Linked DNA regions of Homo sapiens. The protein of the gene in region 1 interacts with the protein of each later gene in a pairwise test. Each region holds a gene or a part of one and is shown in the gene's direction. Other genes may lie near its edges.

Region 1 (2,586 bases):
GAGGTCATGGAGACATGGGAAGCAGGTATTCACATTAGCTCTATTCAAGAGGAAGAGGAGGAGGGAGTGTGCGCAGGCGCCCTAGGGTCTTCCCCAGCACACGTTGGGAAGAAGGGGTCTGCAAGCATGCGCACAATTGCCAGCTCAGGCTAAGGACTGCAGGAGGTTCCAGGTGGGTTGCGGGCTTCGGGCAGGCTATGGTGAGGGGTCCTGAGGGCCTTGGTGACCGCTGCAGGGAGTTGGACTTTTTGAAGCGTGGCTCAAGAAAAACCCATGTTTAATTCCTGCCTTTCGCTTCCTCAGCAGCCTTTCTGGGCCCAGGCAGGGGCCTCGAGCCAGGGAAGGATCCTTTGATGACCAGAGGGGACAGCAGGGAGGGCACAGCGTGGTCGTCCACGGTCACTTGCGCACGAGCCAGTGCTGCTGCTGGTGTTAGACAACAACTTTTATCAAAGTGGTTTAATGTACAGCAGCAACAAAGCTGCTTTGTGGAGCAGGGCTCCCAATAGGCAGTGTGCCCAGAGTAGCAGCTCGGAAGCAGTACTGCAATCACATTTATACCCACTTTCAACTATATGCAAATTTAGGGGTGGATTATGCCAAAATTTCTAGAAAAAAGGTCGTAACTTCCAGGTCGTGGGATTGTTGCTATGGAAAGGAGCCAAAACTTCCAGCTGTTGCCTTAGCAATGGTAACCTGACGTGGCACTGGTGAGTGTGTTTTATGGAGAGACTCTTTCACCTCTTCCCTTTCAGCTTGTCTTCAGTGTGGTCTGGAGCCCAATCCCCACCTCCAGAGTCTAGTCCTGCCTCCTACCTCAGTAATAAAAAGTAGTAGTATATGGTTAATTGTCAAATACATTTGCAAAGTGTAATCAAAGATACATTACCAATCTGAATCTCAAAATGTGCTATCATCTTTGAATTTGAATAATGTATTATTAAAGAAGTTACAGTTTTCCTTTACATTCAATAACATTTCTTTAGTGGTTTTCTTTTTCAGATACTTTGATTATGATCTTTTTTTTTTCATCTTTGTATCCCCGTTATACAACCCAGTGCCTGGCATAGAAAGTGGGATCAACAAATGTTTGGAAAATGAATTGTAAAGTTGACTTTCCTGTACCTTTTTAATATTAGATTTCTAGCTACCAGACTTTTGACCATTTTCTAAATTTTCTACCATAGATAACAGAAAATTCTTTCGCGCAAGCATGTCATTGTATTAATGATATTCTCCTGCCCTAAGGAAATTTACTTCCCTTCAAGCACAGGGTCCCCCAAATTACTGTATTTCCACCCCTTTCAGCTTATTTTATCCTTTTCTCCTGCTACAGAACAGTTGGCATTCACCATTCCCTTCGGTAAAGTCTTTTTTTAGGCTGTGGCTTAAAGGTTGCTTTTTCCCCCATAGCTCAAGGTTAGGCCTTGTGACCTCACTTATGTAATTTGAGTGATTTGATAGCACAAATCAATTTTATACTTAAATTACAGCATAAAACAGCACTGCCTCCTGTTGGAAAAACTTGCTTGCTAATTTTAACCAGACACAGTAAAAATACTGTCCAATACCTCAAAAATTGTGTAAATATATATCCATTTCAATTGTCCCCCTTCCTCTCCTCTCCTTTTATCTCTTGGAAGATAAAAATGTATGGGTCCTGTGCTGATAATGTTTCTGTTCATATTTCTATGCCCTGGTACCTGGATCAGCTTTTGTTCTACACAAAAAGACTTGTATCTGGCTTATTTCTGAAAGCTAGTGTTGGCCATGATGAACTTTTAGAGCAAAAGATTTCAGGCAGAGTACATTCTTACATATTCTTACACAATCAATATTCAGTTCCAGCCCGCACAGTAGCCCTAGCAAATGCCAGTGCTCCTTCCAGAGATTCACCTATGGATTCAGTACCCCAGAAGAGAATTTCTGTAAATTCTTGGGGAAGCTATAGCTAGACTATGGCTCAACACTCATTTTTCCCCCATGATTCTTAATCTAACAGTGGCAATGTTGGCCTCTTCTTAGGCAACTAGATTCGGTTCTTGCTTATTCTGCCAATAAAATACTTTATTGAGATGCTTACAAATTTGTCCCCTCCTCTTTATTTCTTTAAGAAGTTATCACTCCATATACTGGATGTTTAGTTATAATTATTGGTTTGAGTCTTATTTTTATACTTTCAATCACATTCTTTGCCTAATTCTTCTCATATTTTTATATTTTCTTTCCCTCCTCATAATTCTCTTTACATACCACTAAGTTTAGGCACTTGGACTTTTTTTACTTTCAAAATGGTGTTATATTGTGCATATCCTCTTGACTTCATACGTCTGAAGACTCCTAGACTATCTTTTCTACTACATGCTAGCAGAATGTATCATGATGAACACTGAAGAGAATTGCATACCACTGCTCAAAAATTAAACACACACACTTGCATGCATGCAAACGTGCGCGCGCGCACACACACACACACACACACACCAAGGATAGACATCTCAATCTCAAGAAATAAAAAGGAAAGAAAGACTTTCTGACTTCCAGTTCTGCAGAAGGATCAACTCCAGGTTTTAAGCCTGAATTATC
Region 2 (3,028 bases), on another chromosome or scaffold:
AAAGAAGACAGAATCTAGTGCCTTACATATGTGGAAAGTCCAAACTTAGCACCAGGAGGAAGGGCAGGCTCTGTAGGTACAGGTAGGGTGGTAGCTGGTGTGGCAGAAGTACATGGAGAGTCTCTTCTGAGTCTTCCCATCTTCTCCGTGTTGTAGGAAGGAAGGTCCTCAGTTGAGAATGAGGAGAGAGGGAAGGAGGTGTTGGAGATTTGAAAGAAGAAAAGATGTGACTGGTCACTTGGGGGTGGAAGAGTGCGTGGACTGGGGAGATTGAGTAGGATTGATGCAGCCCTAGGGCCTCCCTGGAGTCCGCGGCTGTGAATGCAAAGAGAGCGGTCAGCATGGTTGTCTGTGTGGGAATGGACTCAGTCAACAGAACATTGCAATTGCATGGGGTTTGGTGTTGCCAGGTGCCTGCAAAGGTGAGGGAGTCAAATATGTAAAGAACTCATCTTGATTCTGGACCACAGCATATGAGCTAGGAAAGGAGGAAAGACAGGATGTGGAGAAGCCAGTGAGGGGGCAGGAGGAAAAAGGGACTACAAGTCCTGAGTGTAGTGTCAACAAGTTATTGGAATTGGGGAACTGGAGGAAATTAGAAAGCTGGTGGAGCATGAGTTGCTTGAAATTGAAGTCACAGAAGGGGCTTTGTTAATGACAAAGTTTAGGGAATGGCCAACAGAGCAAGTGGCTTGGGTAGGCAGAGCACAAGATCAGGGAGGAAAGGATGTCCAGGAACTGGGAGGCCCGGGTACTGGAAGGATCATCTACGTGGATATGGAAATCACTAGAACGTGTGACAGAGGTAGTACAGGAGAGAGTGACAGGCAGTTGCCCAAGCTGTTGAAAAATGGCATGGGAAAACTGTTCTGGAGGTTCCATATCGATATCTAGGTGACTGAAACAAGCAGGGCTGCTTTGCCCTGAGCTTCAAAGCTGGGGATTTTTTTTTTTTTTTTTTTTTTTTTTTTGAGGCTGGAGTGCCATGGCACAATCTTGGCTCACTGCAGCCTTGACCTCCTGGACTCGAGATCCTCCCACCTCAGCCTCTCAAGGAGCTGAGACCACAGGCACATGCCACCATGCCTGGCTAATTTTTTTTTTTTTTTTTGCAGAGACAGGGTCTTGCCATGTTGCCCAGGCTCCTGGGCTCAAGTGATCCTCCCGCTTGGCCCCCCAAAATGTTGGGATTACAGATGTGAGCCATTGTGCATTTTTAAGGCAGATAAAGGGAAAGTGATCTGGAAGTGGCAGTAAGGAGCAAGAAAGACTTCTCTTTAGGCCAGGGAAGAGGTTGTGTATGGAGAGAAGATAGTCGCACGTTGAGGGGATGCCAGGGAGTTAGTGCCTGAAAGGAAGAGCCAGGCTGAAGCAAGAAAGTGAAGAGGAACCCAGGGGTTGAAGGCAGGGTTGGGGAAGGTGGGAGTTGGTGTCACAGTAAAGGATGGACAGAGCTGCACAGTGACAGAGCCCAGGGTATGAAGATGGCCTCTCAAAATGGTTGAAGTGAACAGGAAGAAAGGGCCCCCTGGAGGGTAGCTCTGCTGGTCTTCAGGGCAATCTGTGGGGGTGGGGCTGTGTTGGGGAGGGGCCAGTGTGGGGGCTGGAGGACCCTGCAGAGCTCTGGGACCCCCTCTTCACTCTGGAGGAAGCTGGGAGAAAAGGGTCTTGCTGGGAGGGCAGGAAGATGATCAGTGTCAAGCTGTTGGCACAAGGTCTGGCGGGCACTCAGTAGACACACAGCCAGAGTGGCAGCCTCTTGGCCTGGGACTGTTAGACTTGTGGATCCCCGGGCCGGGGGTGCTCTGTATTTGGAAGGATGTATAAATGCAAAGGTACAGTTGCCCAAGGCCAGAGATCTGGCTGAATTGAGGCCTGGGAGTGAGTTTCTAACATCCTTGTTGATTGGGGCTGGGGTGGGTAATAATCTCTTACAGTGTAAAGTTTACAAGTATTTTTCCATCTTAGATCCCACGTGATCCTTAGGACAGCCCTTTGCAAAGGAGAACACTGAGGCCCAGAAAGGGCAACTGATTTGCCCAAGGCCACACAGTCAGGAACTTGGCTCTTTGAGCTCTAGGCCTCTTGTCCTTCTAGGCCACTATTTTGCTCCTCTCTGGCCAGATTAGTTCACTCTCGAGGAGGGGCCCAGAAGGAGGCTTGTTAGCTGGGGCCAGACTGTGTTGCTGAGGCTGAATGTTCCAGTCTTCCCTCCTGCAACATATCTTGCTCTCATAGTTCTCATTGTGAAGCTCTGAATCTTTCTTCTCTCTCCTCCCTCCCCCATGCTGCAGTACATGCTGTGGAGAGTAAGTGGCCCTGCCCCCATGGAGGCCAAACCCCTACTTCTGGGGCAGCCTGCCCTACTAGAATGGCGGGGAGGTTGGATGGGGCTGTGATTGGGTCTCCTCTGACCTGGCTGCTGGGTGACTGTAAAAGGTCTGGGATGTATCTTTGAAGTATGGTTCCTTGCAGCAGGAGGGATTGAGGCTAGAGGGCAGGAATAAATTGTTCTGGAACAGTTGGTACAGGGTCCCCATGGGATTTCTTCTGGGGAGCTTTGAGGGTGGAGGCAGGGAAAGTGTGGATGGCATTCTCAGATCCCACCTCACTTTGAGGTTCAGTGATTTGCCATCAGCTCTAGTTAGTGAGAGCCCATAGTCGGTGGGTTTTGTTTCCGGAGATGCAGGCAGGGCCATGGTGGTAGTCAAGGCATAGAGTTCCCTGTGGACGTCAGGGAGGAACCAGGGTCTGTTCTAAAGACTCCTGAGGAGGGCGTGAACTCTCACACAGGCCCAAGGCTTGCCCTTTCTGGCTGTCCTTAAGCAGGACCAGGAGGTGCCAGGCTGGAGAAGGAATGAGGGGCAGAGAAGACAGGTGGTTTGCAGTCCAGGGGGAGGAAGGAGGAGGCCAGTGCTGCTCCTACTAATGACGCCTTCTCCCTTGCCTTCTCCCTTCTCTCCTAGTCCATGACTTGCAGAGCTTTGGCCTTGACAACGTACGTACCAGATGGAAACCATGGAGGGCA

What was found.
Region 2: the proteins of GIMAP1 (region 1) and ERGIC3 interact in binary tests that used the Homo sapiens proteins (3 or more experiments, as listed by UniProt).

Annotation. Positions count from the first base shown.
Region 1 is NC_000007.14:150,722,199-150,724,784, forward strand, and holds the end of GIMAP1 (GTPase IMAP family member 1), read left to right. Parts: 3' UTR 1-2,086; downstream 2,087-2,586. UniProt on the Homo sapiens protein: May regulate lymphocyte survival. Required for normal levels of mature T-lymphocytes and mature B-cells.
Region 2 is NC_000020.11:35,552,078-35,555,105, forward strand, and holds part of ERGIC3 (endoplasmic reticulum-Golgi intermediate compartment protein 3), read left to right. Parts: intron 1-2,294; coding exon of another isoform or gene 2,295-2,309; intron 2,310-2,966; coding exon 2,967-2,998; intron 2,999-3,028. UniProt on the Homo sapiens protein: Possible role in transport between endoplasmic reticulum and Golgi. Positively regulates trafficking of the secretory proteins SERPINA1/alpha1-antitrypsin and HP/haptoglobin.